Linked DNA regions of Homo sapiens: region 2 is linked to region 1. The links come from fine-mapping of genetic effects on gene expression. A gene starts in region 1. The other region holds a variant in brackets. All regions are shown on one strand. Distances are from middle to middle. Region 1 holds the start of MICU3 (mitochondrial calcium uptake family member 3). Region 2 has its middle 18 kb from the start of ZDHHC2.

Region 1 (10,307 bases):
GCTCTGTCCATATGGACGCTTCAGAGGAGAAAATGCTGCAAGTTAAAGAAGTTAAAACACTACATTGTTTGCTTAAAATACAAAGTTCCTTTTGGTCTTTTCCTTAATAAATACGAAAAATCACTAATAGTATCTTCTTAGTAGTCTTCAAGTAGTAAAAGATGTTTATTAAAATACTCCTTGGTTAAATCTTCTCAGGCTATATCAAGCTTATATAAGCTAAACTTTTCCTTTAGTTTCCAATTCTTCAATCAATTTTATTGTTCTTAGTTGAACTCTTTTCAAGCTCTACACATTCCTTTAAAGTTGTATAGTTCATAACTGAGCAAAGTCCTCTAGTAAATAACACATTAGTATAAGAGCATTAGGAAGAAAATCTATGTTTTCTTCTATATAAACTTTTTATTGAAGTGTTACGTATATAAAAATGTTATAGAAATTATAACTGGACAGCTCTACGAATATTTATAGAGTAAATACACGTGTCATTGGCACCCATATCAAGACACAGAACTCCCAAAGCTCCTTTTTCTGCCTTCTAATCACTTCCCTGCACCCAGGGAGACCACCATCCTAATGTCTAATGTTATTTATATCTATTTGTTGTTGTTGTTGTTGTTGAGCTTTTAAAATAGAGTAATAAAGTTGGTTCTTTTGTGTCTGCCTTCTTTACCTCACTTTTGCTTTAAAATTTATCCCAGTGATTGCATGTAGTTGCAATTCAGTAATTTTCATTGCTTTATATCATTTCATTATGTGAATATGCCACATTTTTAAATAATCCAAGCCACTGTTGATGAACATATGAATAGTTTCTGGTTTGTTGCCAATTAGAAATGATGCTACTATGAATATTCCTCTATATGTCTTTTTTTTTTTTTTTTTTTTTGAGATGGAGTCTCACTCTGTCACCCAGGCTGGAGTGCAGTGGCGCGATCTCGGCTCACTGCTAGCTCCGCTTCCCGGGTTCATGCCATTCTCCTGCCTCAGCCTCCCGATTAGCTGGGACTACAGGTGCCCACCACCACAGCCAGCTAATTTTTTTGTAATTTTAGTAGAGATGGGGTTTCACCGTGTTAGCCAGGATGGTCTCGATCTCCTGACCTCGTGATCTGCCCGCCTTGGCCTCTCAAAGTGCTGGGATTACAGGCATGAGCCACCCACTGTGCCCAGCCTCCTGTATATGTCTTTTGATGGACATAAGTACTCATTTCTTTTCATGAGTCTTTCACCTAAAAAGTGAAATTAATGGGTCATAGGATATGCATATGTCCAGCTTCAGTAGACACTGCTAAGCCCAGCGGGCCCAATCAAAACTCAGGCAAAGGAACCACTGGCCACAGAGGTTTCTGGACAGGAAAACAACACCCCAAAGATCCCATAACATTTTGCTACCAAAGTGTCACTCTTGTGTAATGGGTGATCATTATGTTACTATGAGGTTATTCTGCACCAGAAGACACTTTTTAATGGACATAGAAGCTTTAATCACTATCAGACATGAAAATAGGAAAAGACAATTGAGAAAGAGCTTCCTTGTTTTCCGGTGGGAGGCTTTGCTGGTAGTAAGTCCGTCCTGCTATTGCCTGTGTCCCAAGTACATAAGAAGTCACTACCACCAAATGGAGAACAAAGACACAGGGGATTGTGGGACTTAAACAGCAGAAATTGAACAGTGAGACACCATCAACAAAGACCCTGGAAATTATGTAAAACAGACTGGATAGACGTAGTAGTCAAACCGAGGGTGTTACTGCTCTGGAAAGGTAGTTAAAAGTGTACAATTGCCAGCTTGGTTATTGTCCCCAGTGAAAGATCTAAGAACAAAAGGGGAGGTGTGGCCAGTCAATCACTGATGTTTGGCCATGGATGATGCTGCATTTTCCTCGGAGGACCAAAAGAATGGACAGAGCCGGCTGGGCACTGTGGCCCACGCCTGTAATCCCAGCACTTTGGGAGGCCGAGGCGGGCAGATCATGAGGTCAGGAGATCGAAACCATCCTAGCCAACATGGTGAAATCCCGTCTCTACTAAAAATACAAAAATTAGCTGGGCATGGTGGCGCTCGCCTGTAGTCCCAGCTACTCGGGAGGCTGAGGCAGGAGAATTGCTTGAACCTGGGAGGCGGAGGTTGCAGTGAGCCGAGATCGCGCCACTGCGCTCCAGTCTGGTGACAAAGCAAGACTCCGCCTAGAAAAAAAAAAAAATGGAGAGAGCCTTGGGGAAAACCTATGGCTTTAAGGCTCTAGTCCAGGAGGATACGGCCAAATCATAGTAACAGGATAACTTCAGTGCTAGAATCTGAAAATCACAAAATCTGTTCTTGAATCAAGCTTTCTGCATGATCATACTTTGTTGTCCACCCCCCTCCCCTTTTTTTAGAGGGTCTTGCTTTGTCACCCAGGGGCTGGAGTGCAGTGGCATGATCATAGCTCACTGCAGCCTCGAACTCCTGGGGCAAGCAATCATCCCACCTCAGCCTCCTGAGCTGCTGGGACTGCAGGCATGCACCACCACTCCTGGCTAATTTTAATTTTAATTTTTGTAGAGACAGGTTCTCACTATGTTTCTCTGGCCGGCCTTGAACTTCTGGCTTCAAATGATCCTCCTGCCTTGGCCTCCCAAAGTGCTGGGATTACAGGTGTGAGCCACTTCACCTAGCCCACACTCTATCTGTGATCCTTCTTTGCCAGTCCCTTGCTTTTTCCCTTTGGCCTCCCATCTGTGTTGATTGCATTTCCTCATTGATGTGCTGCTTGGTTTGTCAGCTTGTTTAGTGTCTGATGGGCCATTGTATTTCCTTGTCACCTAACTTGCCTTCCTATGTTGACCTCCACCTTCCCCCCTTTTCAAGACATTGCTTTTCATTTAGTAAATATAATTGAGGTCCTAATGTGTGCCAGGAACTGGGCTAGAAGATGCATACCCTGGCCTCATGTTGCTTAGAGTCAGCTTGGCTTTGCCTAATGGAAAAAGGGTGAGATACAGATCACAGTCTTTGGGAATGAGAGCTCATCAAAACAGAAAACAGACCCTCAGTGTCTTGTGTAACTTGGTTTCCATAGCCCTGGATGCTGAGGAATTGAGTTCTAGATTGCTGGTGGGTAGCACTTTGAAGAAAACAGAGCAAGAACATACCTTCCCCAACACTGTCTCCTATGTCAGTTTTGCCCTAAGGAAGACAGCATGGAAGGTGGAAGGCAATTTGAGAAAATGATGACAACTTTCCCAAGAGAGAAGAAGATGGTTGCAACCTTGCTCTCTGCTGGTAGACTTGAGTGGACCTGGGGATGGGGTGGTTCATGTGCCCTGATACAGATCTCAGATGTAACTGCTGCTCTTTTAACTAGTCAAGAATCTGGAGCTCAGAATGACCAAAATAAGGAATGCAGTATATTTTAATAGAAGTTTTGTTAAACAAGACATTCCTGCCTATTGCACTTATATTCCACTTTTTCAAACTTTTCAAAATCACTAACGTATTTGCAATTTTAAATGCAGTAGAAGGTTAAAATAATTAGATAAAGGAATGGATTTTTTTTTTTTTAAACATAGTCTTGCTCTCTCACCCAGGCTAGAGTGCAGTGGCTCAGTGATGGCTTACTGCAACCTCCTTTTCCCCGGTTCAAGCCATCCTCCTATTTCAGCCTCCCGAGTAGCTGGGACCATAAGCACGCACCACTATGCCTGGCTAATTTTTGTATTTTTTGTAGAGACGAAGTTTTGCCATATTGCCCAGGTTGGTCTCGAACTCCTGAGTGATCAACTCACCTTGGCCTCCCAAAGTGCTGGGATTACAGACGTTAGCCTGCGTGGTCCGGGGATGGAATTTTAAGTTGAAAGAATAAAACAATCTTAGGCCAATTGTAGATTTTCAGAAGAGAAATGATACATGAAAAATACCATGAAGTATCTTTCTATGGTTTACTGATACACTTGGAGCATTTTAGTTCATTAGAAAGATGGGTTCAGGGGTGATCATCTATTTCAACTCCACTATTTTAGAGACTGTGGCTTCCAAAGCATTATAATTAAGATGCAGCAAATCCAAGACTGGAGTCCAGATTTCTTCACTTCTAATTTATTACTTATTCACTGAGGTATATGCTTTCCTGGAAAACCCTTTTTGGCTTAATCCCCATTGTTTGAAACATTTTTATTGTTTCAGAACATTTCTTTTTATTTAGACCATAGTGAACGATAAGTGGATATTTCTTTCAAGGTGTGGGCTCTCACTGTGGAGTAGGGGCATTTTGGGGGTTATTCTTAATGCTCAGTAGAATTGACATAAAAGATAAGGGATACTGGGTTGACTCTATATTGATCCAACAATATTACCTGAAATTTCAAAAAAAAAAGGTTCCAAATTCCTAATATCATATTTTCTTAAAATTTTTCCTCTGGGAATTAAACTCAGAAAAATATCCACATAACAAGGGAATTTGGTTATTTTTGTGTAGCTATAGTTACAGAGCATCAAACGTGGGAAGAAAACAGTAACTATTCTTAAGGAAATTTCACCTTTAGAGGGAAAGTACTGTTGAAAATTATTAGTAAAGCTGTTTTTGCACGTGAGAGGTATTTTATCCAAAGTTCTCTGACTGATCTACAAACATAAACTTAGCCCTTCTCACAGCAGTACTTAGCTTCTAACCAGATAAATTGTTTGCAGGAGCTCTATCAAATTTAGAAAACTATAGAGAAACTACATAGAAATCTATACGTATGTGTCTGTATTTGTCATCTTAGATGAAGGATGTCATTTTCCTCATCTGTAATGTGATGTTATTGTATTACCTCCCTAATCTTCTTTAGAACTACTTAGCTTTTAACATGCAACTAGTAAAAATTGATCAGTTTGTCCAAGAATTCTGGCATTAGACTATAATAAGAATTTATGAGAAAATCAGGAAATCATGTTCAGTTCAAAGTAAACAGTGTCAGAACTATTATTATAATTTTTTTTTTTTGAGACAGAGTTTCGCTCTGTCACCCACGCTGGAGTGCAGCGGCACAGTCTCGGCTCACTGAAACCTCCACCTCCCGGGTTCAAACAGTTCTCCTGTCCCAGGCTCCTGAGTAGTTGGGACTACAGGCGCATGCCACCACACCTGGCTTTTTTTTTTTTAAGTTTTTTGTATTTTTAGTAGAGATGGGGTTTCACCGTGTTAGCCAGGATGGGCTCTATCTCCTGACCTCATGATCCACCCGCCTCGGCCTCCCAAAGTGCTGGGATTACAAGTGTGAGCCACCACGCCCGGCCAATATGATTATTATATTATATATAATATATATAATTATTACCCAGAAGATAATTTATTTGGGGAAACTACCATTTCACAGAATATAGAGAAAGCATAAATTGAGGAAAATTTGGTGATAAAGCAAGACGCTATCAGAGTCTTCCTTAGGCATTGACTCCATAAAACCCACAGGCTGAAACTGAAGAAAACTCAGAGACAGGTTTTAAAATACACAAAATTTGTTCATCTGCTACAGAAGATTTTTCTTCTTACCGCTTTTAGCAGCTTTAAGAAAGCAAAATGCCATTAACCTCTATTAAAATAAGAGGTAACAGGGTGTACCTGATGTGCTATTTACATGCAAGGTGTTAGGAATAGAAATTGCAGGACCTCCAGGAGTTCGAGGCCAGCCAGGCCAAGATGGTGAGACCCCCATCTCTACTAAAAACACAAAAATTAGCCAGGCACGGTGGCGGGTGCCTGTAATCCCAGCTACTCGGGAGGCTGAGGCAGGAGAATCGCTTGAACCAGGGAGACGGACGTTGCAGTGAGCCGAGAATGTGCCACTGCACTCTAGCCTGGGCAACAGAGCAAGACTCCGTCTCAAAAAAAGAAAAAAAAAAGGGAAGAAATTGTAGGACCTGAGCCAGAAAAAACTCATTTGGTCGTCTCTGAAAGCCTTTAGTCTTTACAAGAATTGCCAGAATCAACTGATGGTGTATTCTCTTGTCACTGCAGCCCAATTGAGACCACTGTATTTAGTTGTCTGTCCCCTTAGATCCACAATATTTTAGGGACTCCTGGCACCATTCCATAGTAGGAAGAAAAAGCTAACATAATTCAAGTTACCAAAACTGGGGTCTGGGGAGAGAAACTGATAGGAACTTCATCTACACTTTCTCATAAAAACTGATACTGATAACATAGCAAACAAAAAGTACAGTAAAAACAAAAAGATGACACAATACGCTTCTCATTTATTTTATATTTATACAAACAGCGCTTCCCTGAAAAATCAGGGTATCGTTCAAGATTTTATCTTTATTCACAGAAGTTTTAAAATTTTTAACTTTTATATGCACAAGACAGTTCTGATTTGTTGAATTAAGTGACCGCGGGTGTGCTAATGCTTCTAAAAAACAGCATTAGCCTTCTCCCATCAAAAGTCCGGAAGCTGCCCTTCAGTCGTCAAAGTGTTTGCCTTAATTTGCAATCGTTATGACTTGAGCCAAATGCTTATACCTCATTTGTGTCGTATATGTGAAGATACAATTGCAAATCGTTCACGACCTTGAGTCAAGACCTTGAGTTTCCTGAGGTCAGGAGACCGTTAGGGAATGTGAGTGTCCCAGACGGGCGCTGAGCCCAGCTCGGAGACCCACCCCGCCCGTAGCAGCGGCGCGGGCCCCAGAGAGCCCCGCACTCGGCCGCGCCTCAGTTACGCTGACTCGGCTGTGCCCGCAGTGTCGCGCTGTCGCGTAGCCAGGTGTCGCCGGGCTGGCGCGGTTATTTATGACTGCGTGGTTGGGCTGGGGGTTCGGGGCCGGGGAGCAGCCGGGATCCGCCGCCTCTTCCATGATCTTCCCGGGCCGAACCACGGGACCGCTACGCTGAAGGTGGCGTCGCGGGTCCCCGGGGCCGCGCGAGTGTAGGGGTCGCTCTCGGCCGGCCGCGAAGCTCGCGGCACCGACTTCTCGCGAGATTTCGGCGACCCCCCCCCCCGCCCCCGCCCCTCCGTTCTCTGCCCCCTCCCAGCTCTGGTGTGGGCGGCCTCCGCTATGGCTGCGCTGCGAAGGCTCTTGTGGCCGCCACCCCGGGTGTCTCCTCCACTCTGCGCTCACCAGCCCCTCCTTGGGCCGTGGGGGCGGCCTGCGGTGACCACCCTGGGCCTTCCTGGCCGGCCCTTCTCCTCCCGAGAGGATGAGGAGAGGGCTGTGGCGGAGGCGGCATGGAGGCGGCGGCGGCGCTGGGGGGAGCTGAGCGTGGCGGCGGCGGCCGGCGGGGGGCTGGTCGGCCTGGTATGCTACCAGCTGTACGGGGACCCCAGGGCCGGCTCGCCGGCGACCGGGCGACCCTCAAAGAGCGCGGCCACGGAGCCCGAGGACCCGCCCCGCGGCCGGGGGATGCTGCCCATCCCAGTGGCGGCTGCCAAGGAGACGGTGAGTGCGCGAGCGCGCGTCACACCTGCGCGGGGGATGTGACCTTCGTGCCGGGTACGCAGGACCCTGGAGGCTGTGGGGACGGTGCAAGCGCTGTGGCCGCGGGTGAGGAACTTCCCGTGAGCGAGGCTGACACCTAGGCCGGACAGCCTAGGATCCGGTCACCCACGTATTGGGAAGACCAGTGATGCTGTCCCTGATGCATCAGGACCTTAAAGGTGGCTGCAGCTACCAAGTATCAATCCAAACCCAAAACCAACACCCCTCCCCCTCTTACAAAAAAAGATTCAGAAATGAAGGCCATGACAGGCAGAAAGTGGACCGCTGTAGGTGTGGGAAAAAGGAACTCCTAGATTGCGCGGGGCGACAGCTAATGACCCAGGAGGTCTGTTGCATTAGAATGAGTTTCGAAGCAGCGGTCTGAGATCTCAAAAGCCACTACTTTAGCATATGAGAATTTATTAGTCCCAAGAAAGGAAATGCTAAACCTGCATGCTAACGCCCTTATCATACCCAGGGAATGTTGATGTTACCAGGTCTGAAAAGAAATAAAAAATTGTTCAAAAAGAGACATAAGTATTTCTCTCTTTTTCCTTCCCCCACTAAAGCCAGAATCCCGTTAGTAGGTAACGATAAAACACAAAATGGATAGGATAGCAAATGTAGGAGGCTGTGAATGACACAAACTCCTACAGAAGAAAGTCACGTGAAAATGTTCAACTGTCATTATGTAGTTAATAATACAAGGTAAAGATGTGTGAAAGGCAACAGTGAGTAAAGGAGCGTGATTTTTTTTGTCGCATCAGTATATTTAATAGTCATGTAAATGACTAGGAAAATTAAGGAGATTTTCCTTGCAAGGCTCGAAGAATGTGAACGGCGTAGATGAAAATAATTTAGAAAACAGAGAGCTATGCTGTTTCTAATGCAATTTTTATAGGCTTTGTTCTTAATACGCAGTGGTGATCTGATGTAAGTGCATCATTTCCTTTGGTGGAGGTTGTCAATGCAATTAGGTTACGGAATCTGCTTTATGGACTATCTAGCAGCAGATCACAAGCACATAACATAAAGTCCTTTTACACATGAATATTCAAAATACTAGGAAATACCCTCAAATCTCCACCCCCTCCCCCTTCACAAATACACATCCACTTTTGTGGCTTGGCAAGGAGCATAGCGTTTTTCATGATGGCAGAACTTTTAATTAACCATAGTTGGTCTAGGAACAGATCAGCAAGGTAGGGAATTCAAGTAGTATTTTCTTTTCTTTCTTAAAATTAATTTTACTTTTACAGTTGAGAGATGTTATCTTGCAGTTTTTAAAAAGACCACGTTCAGAAAGCTAGAACTTTGGCTCCACGACTTGCTACTTGTGTCATTATGGAGAAATTACTTGACCTGTCAATGCCTGTTTCCTCACCTGTGAAATGAGGCTAATAGTCTCCTGGGGTGTTATGAGAGTTAAATGAGTTAACACAGTATATTTAAAACAATGGTACTACTAAAGAACATTAAATAAATTTATTTTTTGGCTGAGCGTGGTGGCTCACGCCTGTAATCCCAGCACTTTGGGAGGTCGAGGCAAGCAGATCACCTGAGGTCAGGAGTTCGAGACAAGCCTGGCCAACATGGCGAAACCTCGTCTCTACTAAAAATACAAAAATCAGCCGGGTGTGGTGTTGGGCGCTTGTAATCCCAGCTACTGGCAAGGCTGAGGTAGGAGAATCACTTGAACCTGGGAGACAGAGGTTGCAGTGAGCCGAAATCACACCTCTGCACCCCAGCCTGGGTGACAAGAGCGAAACTCCATCTCAAAAAAAAAAATTATTTTTTATTCGTTTATTTATTTTGTACTTTTGTGCAGTTATTATTGCTTAGTGTTTATAAAAATTTCTGTTCATTGTTTTAGAAGTCAAATAATGTTAAAGTCCTGTGTCTTATGCTTCCCTAGCCTCTAGTCCTACTTTCTGATTGTCATGCCTTTTGTATTTCCCTCTCTGAAAACTTTTATGATCTGTTTATCCCTGGTGCTTGAAATTTTCACAGTAATGAGCTTCGGGATGTGTATTTTTTCACTGATTGTGCTAGGTTCTTAAGAGGCCTTTCAATATGGAAATCCGTGTCTAAAAAATTCTGTGTAATTTTCTTCTATTGTTTCTTTGATGATTTTTCTCTTCTCCCTCTTTCTATTCTCTTTTTCTGGAAATGCTGTTTCTTTGAAGTTAAATTTCCTGACAGATCCTAATCTAATTCTAATCATTCTTATATTTCGGTTTTAAAAAATATTTTCATCTGTTTATTTGTTTTTATAGCAGATATCCTGGGCTTTATCTTCCAACCTTCCTACTGAATTTTTTTATTTCTGCTATTCTACTTTTTTAATTCAAAGAGCGACTTTGTGTTCTCTGTTGTTGATGAGTTATAGCATTCTATTTTGCTTTCTATATGGCTGCTATATTTTCTCTTTTTGCTGTAAGGATATAAATTATAACTTTGTTTTGCCTTCTAAGGATATAAATTATAACTTTGGCCTTCTCTGTGCATTGCTTTGTTTCTTCCAGGTTCTTTTTTATTTCTGTTTGATTTTATAAGCTCTTGCTTTCATTTTGGAGGTTTTCCTCACATATCTGTGGTTGTTACCTGTCTCTTACTTGAGAACCTCTCAGAGGGTGTCTGTGCATAACATGTCCTTTCATCTGCACGAAAGGGCTTCTTATTAGTGTAACATCCAAATGTCAGTATTTTACAGCTCTTTTTCTCTGATGCTGTTGAGCGTCTACAAAAAATAGGAGAGATGAGAGGTGCAGTAGTCTTCTGGCAGCAGGCACATGTGCACATATATGTAACACCACTTATGTTGGTGAGTATTATGGGCTTCTTATTAGTGTAACATCCAAATGTC
Region 2 (10,613 bases), 110 kb after region 1:
TTCCCTTTAAGAACTCAGATCTCTGAAATGGCAGAGCTCAAAGATGCCAGAAGCAGCAGCAAATATTCTGCAAGTGTGTTATTAGGTGTTGCTACGGTCTGAATGTTGGTGACCTCCCAAAATTTATATGTTGAAATCTAATCACAAACGTAATAGTATTAAGAAATGGGGCCTTTAGGAAGTGATTAAGTCATGAGAGTGGAACCCTCATAAATGAGATTAGTGCCTTGGTAAAAGAGGTGCAAGGGAACTGTTCACCCCTTCCTCCAGGTGAAGAGCCACAAGAAGATGCCATATTGGAAGCAGAAAGCAAGCCCTCGCCAGGCACTGAATCTGCTTGATCTGGGACTTCCCAGCATCTAGAACTGTAAGAAATAAGTTTCTGTTGTTTATGAATTACCCAGTATAAGCTATTTTGTTATAGCAGCTGAAACAGACTAAGACAAATATAATAGAGGAGCCATTCTTTCATCCTACTTTTGATTCCTGAACCCATGTATTCTGGTTATGATGGGGAAAGTGCACTATCTAGTTGTTTGTTTGTTTTTAATTGGAGGATTAGTCCAATCAAACTGCTCCACTATTAACAGAAGCTAGAAATAAACCCCTTTGTTATTGACATTTTTTGCTAACCATTAAGATTTTTGTTATTTATGGGTTATCTATTTCTGTCTTTTGCCACATATATTTTTTTAAATCTGTTCATTCACTTTCTTTGTATATCAAATATATAGATCATTTGGCTGTCCTATAAGTTGCACGTATTCTTCCAGTGTATTATTTCAGTTTTATTTATATATATATCTCAAAGATTTTCATTTTTATGTATTTGGATGTGATCTTTTTAGTTGCCATTTCCTTACTGCTTTTAAGCTTAGAAATACCTCTTCCAATTTAATAAACTGTCATATATTTTATTGTTTCTATTTTCTTTGCATATAACTAAAAAAATCCACCTGGGACTAATTTTGTTACCTGGTAAAAAATGAGGACCTAGTTTGTTTGACCCACAAATATCTAACCAACTTATCCAGCACTATTTATGGAATAATTCTTCCTTTTTGCCACCTAATATAATGCAAATTATATTTTAAATATTTAAAAAGATTTTTACATACCTAAATCTATTTCAGCATACTCCTTGTGTGGGGATGTAAATAAATAAACTATTCTCTTCATTTGGACTATCTGGCTGTTCTTGTAACTACATTGTTTTACTTACTTTATAATATGTTAGACTATTTTGTAAGACTAACGTGCCTCCATCTTCAATAGCCACATGTAAATTCCTCTTTTTAATTTTTAAAAACTATTCATACTGGCTTATCCTTTCAGATGAATATTAGAATTGTTTTATCTTCTCCAAGTGAGATTTTTATTTACTCACTTTAAAATTATAAATTAATTTGGACTGATTGACAATTGTATTATGGTTCTCCAGAGAAACAGAACCAATGGGATGTACATAAAGAGATTTATTGTAAGAAATCGGCACATGTGATTATGGAGGCTGACAAATCCCAAGATCTGCAGGGGGAGGTGGCAAGCTGGAGACTCAGGTGAGCAGACGTTGTATTTCTTATTTCAATCCTAAAGCCTGAGAACCAGGAGAGCCAATGGTGTAATTCTAGTCCAAAGGCTGGCAGGCTTAAGATCTAGGAAGAGCTCATGTTTCAACTTGAAAGCAGATGGGCAGAAGGAATTGTCTTACTCAGAAGAAAGTCAGCCTTTTGTTTGTTTGTTTGTTTGTTTGTTTGTTTGAGACAGAGCCTCACTCTGTCACTCAGGCTGGAGTGCGGTGGCATGATCTCTGCTCCCTGCAAGCTCCACCTCCCAGGTTCATACCATTCTCCTGCCTCAGCCTCCCGAGTAGGTGGGACTACAGGTGCCCACCACCACACCTGGCTAATTTTTTTATTTTTTAGTAGAGACGGGGTTTCACCATGTTAGCCAGGATGGTCTCAATCTCCTGACCTCGTGATCCGCCCGCCTTGGCCTCCCAAATTGCTGGGATCATAGGCGTGAGCCACCACACTGGCCGAAAGTCAGCCTTTTTGTTCTCTTCAGACTTTCAAATGATTGGATGTGGCCTGCCCACATCAGGGATAGCAATCTGCTTTAGTCTACTGATTTAAATGTTAAACTCCTCCAAAAACACCCTCACAGACACACCCAGAATAACATTTGTCAAGTATCTGGGCACCAAATGGCCCAGTCAGGTTGACACATGACGTTAACCATCACAACACCTTTATACTATACCATTTCATTCAGTGATAATTATTTGAGTTCAGTTGTATATTCTACTTACAAGTCAAGATTTATGGGTTTCATTATCCAGGTCATGCCTGCTTCTTACAATTATGGTCTTTCCTATAATATGCATACCTATTGTTGCTTTTAAGAATGGACATTTGGCCAGGCGCAGTGGCTCATGCCTGTAATCCCAGCACTTTGAAAGGCCAGGGCAGGTGGACCACAAGGTCAGGAGTTTGAGACCAGCCTGGCCAAGATGGTGAAACCCCATCCCTACTAGAAATACCAAAATTAGCCAGGTGTGATGGTGGGCAGGAGTAGTCCCGCTACTCGGGAGGCTGAGGCAGGAGAATTGCTTGAACCTGGGAGGTGGAACTTGTAGTGAGCTGAGATTGCGCCACTGCACTCCAGCCTGGGCAGCAGAGCAAGACTGTCTCAAAAAAAAAAAAAATGGACATTTTTCCGTTAGATTTTCTATCTGATTTTTGTTGGTATACAGAGAAGCAACTGATTTTATTTGTTCAGCACTTAACTGAACTCTTGGTAGTACTGAAAGTTTTTCAATTGATTCTCTTAGGTTTTCTGGTGGGCAGTCATATTACATGCAAACTAAGGCAAATGTGTCTTTGCCCTATCTACATTATTGCTTCTATTTCTATCTTCTGTATTATTGCATTGATCATAGCCTCCAGAAGAGTGTAAAATACTAATAGAGGCAGCAGAAATCTTTCGAATTCCCATTTTAATAGGATGATCTCTGTAATTGTTCAAATTAACATTTTGCTGTTGATCAGAAGAAAGTATCCTTTATTTCCTGAATTTGGAAGAAAAAGGATTGAGTGTTGAATCATCTCAAATGCCTTTCAGTAGTCACTGATAAATCGGTTATATCATTTTTCCAACTTGACCTCCAGATGTAATATATCTTTTTATAGGCTTCCTATATTAAATTATTCTACATTAGTGTAATAAACTCAAATAGATCATTCTTTTCATTTTCTGATCTTGGACAAGTTGACTTCTCTATGTTAGCTTCTTCATCTATAAAGTAGAGCTAAAAATTGTACTTACTCCATGTTATAGGACATAGTTGAGATAATTCACATAAAGTAAATTCATGGAAAATACCTAGCACAATCTCCAACACAACTCCTAGGGTATGTTCAGCTAGTATCATCATCATGGTTATTAACCAGTAGGCTGGAATATGGTTACAGCAGGGAAAATTATATTTCCCTAAGAGTTTTCTTATATTCATGAGAGGGACATTTCTCATATATTTTTAAAGGAAATAAAGTAGGTATTTTTAGATTTCTATGTATGAATCACGGACAGCAACAATAAAAAAGTTATTTTTCATTATTTTATTGTAAAGCGATGTTGTTTGCTTATACCTATCTCCTTGGGTTAAATACGAAGTCCCTTGCACAGTTGGGTTGGGTTCATGGCCTTGTGACCACCGCAGTTGCACAAAGACCCATGTCAGAAGGGCTCCACATATGGGTTTTAATCCTCCGCTGTCACCCTTTTGAAATTCTTAACAATTTTTAAGTCACTGGGAAAATGGAGCTTGTGGAGGGGATTAGAGCCTCTGCTCACTCATGGCTCTGCTTCCCATTCCATCCCCACCTTCCTAGGATTCTTGGCTACCCTCTGTCTTGCCAAGGGCCTCACCCTCCCCACCCTGTCCAGCTACTGCTGCCAGTCTTCATCCCCCAACAGCGGCCTGGGTGCAGGTATAGATAGGAGTTGGGCAGGGCATACGTGACCCAGAAAGTCTTCAGGCAGAGCATGGTGGAAGCCATTCTACCCTAGGCTGGCAGTGCCGTGGTGCAGAGGCTGTAGCCAACTGGGGACCACAACTCAGGGGAGATAAACCTTTTTTTTTTTTTTTTGAGACGGAGTCTCTCTCTGTTGCCAGGCTGGAGTGCAATGGCGTGATCTCAGCTCACTGCAACCTCCACCTCCTGGGTTCAAGTGATTCTCCTGCCTCAGCCTCCCAAGTAGCTGGAACTACAGGTGCACGCCACCACGCCCAGCTAATTTTTGTATTTTTAGTAGAAACGGGGTTTCACCATGTTGGCCAGGATGGTCTTCATCTCTTGACCTCATGATCGGCCTCCCAAAGTGCTGGGATTACAGGCGTGAGCCACCACTCCCGTCCAAACCTTTCTTTCACTTATCTTCAATCCAAGTACGTAAAGGCTTCTAGCCCAAAGGTTGCAATATCCTTGGGGTTGCCTATGTACCCCTATCTAAGTTTGGCTTATCAGTGCCATGAGGTATGAATTATGTAATTTCAGTGATTCTACATAGGAGTTAAATGTTCTATTTGCATTTAAAACTGGCATTGCCCAATATAAGCAGTAAACATCATACTAATTTTTTTTCTCCCAGTGGCTGTGAGAACATCATATTAATAATTTTTTTAAATTTTATTTACTTAGAATGATATTAAATAGCACATAAAAACACTACGACAAGTTGAGAGAGACAGACCACGGAAGGAAGAAAAAAGTTTTATATTTAATACCTTAAACCACACTATTTCCTGCTTTTTTTTAAAAAAAAAAAAAAAAAGGGGGCCCTGTATTTTCATTTCACACTGGGCTTCAAAAACTATGTAGCCCATCTTTTCTTGGGATATGGAAATTTGGGCCAGTATCCAAGTGTGTAAGTATGTCTAAGTTTGGATAAATACAGGATGGTAAGAAACAGACAAGGGAAAGAGTAATATTTTCTTTTCCTTTTTTTTTTTTTTTTTTTTTTTTTTTTTTGAGACAGAGTCTCACTCTGTCGCCAGGCTGGAATGCAGTGGCACAATCTCGGCTCACTGCAACCTCCGATTCCCAGATTCAAGCAGTTCTCCTGCCTCAGCCTCCTGAGTAGCTGGGACTACAGGTGCGCACCACCACGCCCAGCTAAATTTTGTATTTTTCGTAGAGACAGGGTTTCACCATATTGGCCGGGATGGTCTTGATCTCTTGACTTTGTGATCCGCCTGCCTCAGCCTTCCAAAGTGCTGGGATTACAGGCATGAACCACCATGCCCAGCCAAGAGTAATATTTTCTATTACATGGAAGTGGATTTTGATTTTCTCA[G/A]AATTATAATGGAGGAAGGAATATTAAGATGGTAAAAATGCTCATGATACCAAAGATGTCACCCACATAGTGATAAACTCTTAAGAGAATTTGATGTTTAAAGAGTTATGATGTCTGATCTGATTTCTTGAGTTTCATCAATAAGAATGAGGGACTCAACAACCAAATTCCAAAGAGGTTTGCATTAAAAAGGGTGTAACTCCAGCAGAATGTAAATGTATGTAAAATAGATAATAGCAAGATGTTATAATGTTTTTATTTTGAATGAGGCAGAAGCTGTTTCGGAAAAAAAGAAATAGAGGTTTAAAGAACACAGAACATACCTTCAACCGTCATGGCAGGGTGGTGGACCACGAGGAAATGACTGTGACAAGTCAGCTAATCTTGGAACAAATTAGGGAAGGAAATGATGAACAACAGCTGCAAAGAAAAAAATGCAAGAATTTGCAAATGATGTCCACTTTGTCTTTAATTTACCCAATGCTGGAAAGAATACTGGTCACCTCACTTTTCGGTAATATACGCACCATCGTCTTCAGACACAGAAGAATGAGAAATAATTAAAAGTCACTGAGACGGCTCTCACCTCCTGTACTTCATTATCACACAATGTCTTGCTAGAGAGGCATTTTCATTCCAGATGAATATGTGGTTGATTAGCGCTTTTCCAAAAGCAAATTGTCTGAGGTTCTCTGTACTGCATTTCCTGGTACCAATTCCTCATTAAGGTGATTCATGAATTTTTTTTCAATTAGGTTCGTATGTCTTTTTAAAAATCAATTTGGTGTCTACCTTTCAACTAAATGAATGAGCCAGTGTATCATTCAGACAGGTGTGGACTTGCATAACTATTAAGTTAAATGAGCCTTTCATAGAATTGAGAAAATGGGCAAGGATTAAAAGTGGAATCTGAACAGGAATCACTATTTCAAAAAGAACAAATTAGAAAATATGAATAAACAGGTGAACTACATGAGCCCTTCCATTCAGAATAGCATGGCGGGTAAGCATGGGCTCTGGAGTCAGACTTCTCTGAGTTCCAATCTTGGCTCTTTTGCTAACTTCCTTTGTAATTAAACAAGGTCGTAACACTTTCCACCTCTCAGCTTTTTCATGTGTGAGATGAGATCATGATAGCAGCTGTGTCCTTGGGTGGTGGTGAGAATTAAATGGGAAATCGCCTTTAAAGCACTGAACTGAGCACACAGTAAACATTTAATAAACGTTAGTTCCTATTATTCCTAAAATAATACTATTCATTTAGAATCACTTATTAGTAATCAATGCTAACTTGACCTTAACGATTAAAATAAAGATAAAAATTCATGGGCTATCGAAACCTATAATGTGGTACTCATTATTCAAGTGGAATGAAAACGCTGAAAAGAAAATGTTTTTTCAAAATTTCATCTGGCAAATATTGCCAAATAGTTTAAAGCAACCCTACATGTTTTTTCCATACCTCATTATCCTGTGCCATGAGGGGGAAGAAAGGATGTATTTTAATTGTTGTGACCACCTTCATCTATTGAAGTCTTGATTTTTCAGGCACCTCCTTCGTTTTATTAAATATTTTATGCTGTGCATGTGAAATATGTAGTCCATGTACCCAGGGATATTTCTGTCTACTAGTTTTCCTTGTTCCTAAAAACAGAAATGAGGAATGCCTACGGCTAAAAAGAAAAAAAAAACTGTCTTCCTGTCAGCAGCTCCTTCTGCTGATATGTCACCGATGCCAAATTATATATTCACGTAATTTGCATTTTCCCACTCTTAGTTTTTTTTTTAAATCATTAGGTCAAAAGCTAAAATACATTCCTTTTTATAGCAGAAAATTGCTCCTGTTTGTTCAAAGCCAATTTGAAAGATTTGATCATCAGAAAAACATATATGTGTCTATATATAATTTCTAAATTTGGCTTCAAACCCCTACTTATTTAGTAGTGCCACACAATAGCTTTTTTTAATGTAAGATTTTCCTTTAAGAAATGGGAATAAAGCTCTAGGTATTTATTTTTTGAAAAGTGCTGTTTAATCCTGTGCTTAGCATAGTGCCTGGTATTTGATAGATAACAAATATATATTTGTTGAAAAATAAGTGAATGAATGAATGAATAAGCAAAGTAAGGCATATCAAGCCTGAAAGGTAGATATAGTCTGCTTGACTTTTCCTTTACTGCTTGACACATTTCCTAACTTTTTCTACCTCCTAACATTAAAACAAAAATACAATGACATACTTGAGAGTTTTCTAGTAAGATGCATGTCCCAGCAACTAAAAAGCAACTCCAGCCGGGTTCAGTGGCTCACGCCTGTAATCCCAGCACTTTGGGAGGCCAAGGCGGGTGGATCACAAGGTCAGGAGATCAAGACCATCCTGGCTAACACGGTGAAACCCTGTCTCCATTAAAAATACAAAAAATTAGCCGGGTGTGGTGGCACGCGCCTGTAGTCCCAGCTACTCAGGAGGCTGAGGCAGGAGAATCGCTTGAACCCACGAAGTGTAGGTTGCAGTGGGCCGAGATCACGCCACTGCACTCCAGCCTGGGCGACAGAACAGGACTCTGTCTCAAAAACAACAATAAAAAAAGCATCTCCATGAGATGGATTTTTTTCTCGGGTACTAAATGCTGATAGTAGCTAACATACAGTCATCACATATATTATGCATATAAAATGCTTAGCATATATATACATATATAATGCCAGATACTATGCTGAGCATTTTATGCACATACTGTTATTAATATCCTCAACATTCCTATGAGAGAGTAGATAATATATGCCCCAGCTCATATCTGAGGCATAAAGAAGTTAAGTAATTTCCCTAGGGTTATATAGCAATAAGGATAAAACCAAGACTCAGACCCAGGTTGTCTAATTCCTGAGCCAAGCTCTTAACCACCATGATGAATTCCTTACTGTGATGCAAGAGTACTGGGAAGTAAACAGAGGTGACTTCTAAGCCATGGAAGAGGTGCCAGTGAGACTATGGTTTGGTGGGAAATTTAGGACTCTTGAGCAGTGCTGTGGAGCTGGAGCAGAATGGGCACGAGGTATCGGGAAAAGACGGAATATTAAAGCGAAGAACTGGATTGGGGGAAGGCGTATTATTGGCCTATATCTAGGGTCATATAATTTATCATCCAAACCGGGACACTTTTGAAAGTGAAAAGGGACTCTATTCAGAATTACATCAAGACAGTGCTCCAAACTGGGACTATCCAAGCTAAACTAGGACATGTAGTCATCTTTCCCATGTCCCTCTCTTGCTAACTTATTTTTTCCTTTCTTCCTCTCTTATTCTCTTCTCCCTTTTCTCTCCCTCTTCGTCCTCCCTATGTCCCTCACTGGCTCTTTACATGTACCTTAAATGGCAGTAATTTGTTGCGTTTAACTGGAGTTGGGATGCTCATTAAGTGCCTCATGTTCGAACCGAGTTAAACAAATGTTCCAAAACAATAGTTCCGTTGTTGCTGTATTATTTATCTATTGCGGCATTGCAAATTACCCCAAATTGCAGCTGCCTAAGAAAACAAACATTATTTCCCACAGTTTCTGAGTCAGTCAGGAGCAGCTTTGCTGGGTGAGTCTAACTCAAGGTCTCTCCTGAGGGTGCAGTCAAGCTGTTGGCTCGCACTACAGGCATCAGAAGGAATGACTGCAGCTGGAGGACTGACTTCCAGAACACTCACTCACATGGCGACCCCCATCCTCTGCTACATGGCCCTCTCGATGGGGCTGCTCATGACAACAGGGCAGCTAACTTCTCACGGCTCAAGTGATGTGAGGCTGAGGAGGAAGCCGTGGTGTCTTTTTTTGAACCAGTCTTTGAAATTTCCCACTATTAATTCTGCTTTATTTTATTCATTAGAAGTGAGTCACTAAGTGCTATGGTCTGAATGTTTGTGTTCTGCCAAAATTCATATGTGGGAACCCTAACCCCTAGGTGATGGCAGCGTTTAGGGGTGGAGCCTGTGTTAGTCCATTTTCACGCTGCTGATAAAGACATACATAAGATGGATAATTTATAGAGAAAAAGAGATTTAATGGACTCACAGTTCCACGTGGCTGGAGAGGCCTCACAATCATAGCAGAAGGCAAAAGGCACATCTTACATGATAGCAGGCAAAGAGAGAGTGAGAGCCAAGTGAAAGGGGTTTCCCCTTATAAAGTCATCAGATCTCGTGGGACTTATTCATGACCACAAGAACAGTATGGGGAAACCGTCCCCATGATTCAATTATCTCCCACTGGGCCCCTCCCACAACACGTGGGAATTATGGGAGCTATAATTCAAGATGAGATTTGGGTGGGGACACAGCTGAACCATATCAGAGCCTTGGGAAGTGATTAGGTCCTGAGGATGAAGCCCTCATGAAAGAAATTAGCACCCTTATAAAAGAGGCCCCAGCAAGCGCGTTGGCCACTTCTACTATGTAAGAGTACAGAGAAAAATCATCTTTGAGGGAACCAGAAAGCTGGCCTTCACCAGACATCAAATCTGCCAGTGGCTTCATCCTAGACTTCCCAGCCTCCAGAACTGTGAGAAAGAAATTTCTGTTGTTTAGAAGCTACCTAGTTTATGATACTTTATTATAGCAGCCAGAATGGACTAAGACACTAAGTCCACTCAGCACTCAAGGGTAGGGGATGAGCCTTCACTTCTTGAAAGGCGAAGTATCAAAGAATTTGTGCACATATTTAAAATCATCACAGCTACATAGTTTTTCAAACTGACTCTTTGATTTAATTTTACTTCTGGGGCCCTGTCCAAAGAAAACAACTAAATAGAAGGGGAATGTTAGATGAGCCAAGTTATTTATGGTATGTTATGCCAGTGAAAAATTAGAAAACACCTACATAATTAACAATAAAGGAATGGTTTAATGAATTATAGTACTTCTACAGAATAGAATACTGTGCAAATATTTAAAATTATTCTAGACTGGGCATGGTAGTAATCCCAGCACTTTGGGAGGCTGAGGCAGGAGGATCACTTGAGCCCAGGAGTTGGAGGCTGCAGTGAGCTATGATCATGCCACTGCACTGCAGCCTGAATAACAGAGCAAGATCCTGTCTCAAAAAACTTTTTTTTTAATTTAATAAAATAATTCTGAAGCCTGTATAGCAGCATGAAAAAAATGTTTGTAATGAAATATTTATGAGAACACAAAATTGTATGTAGGCTATCATTTCAACTCTAAAAAGAAAACACACAAAAAGACCAGATGGAAACAAGCTAAAATAACAAT

The links. PIP is the estimated chance that this variant, and not a neighbour inherited with it, causes the effect.
Region 2: its variant is fine-mapped to the expression of MICU3 in whole blood (TOPMed, PIP 0.94).

The regions. Positions count from the first base shown.
Region 1 is chr8:17,020,259-17,030,565 of GRCh38, forward strand. It overlaps MICU3 (mitochondrial calcium uptake family member 3), which reads left to right and starts at 6,980. Exons shown (of 15, transcript NM_181723.3): 1 at 6,980-7,402. The coding sequence starts at 7,022. RefSeq lists a silencer at 6,958-7,367 and an enhancer at 7,518-7,607.
Region 2 is chr8:17,132,703-17,143,315 of GRCh38, forward strand. It overlaps a transcript of MICU3 not described here. Among named protein-coding and RNA genes, the nearest start is that of ZDHHC2, 18 kb to the right of the region's middle. The variant G/A (reference allele first, on the strand shown) is at 5,359.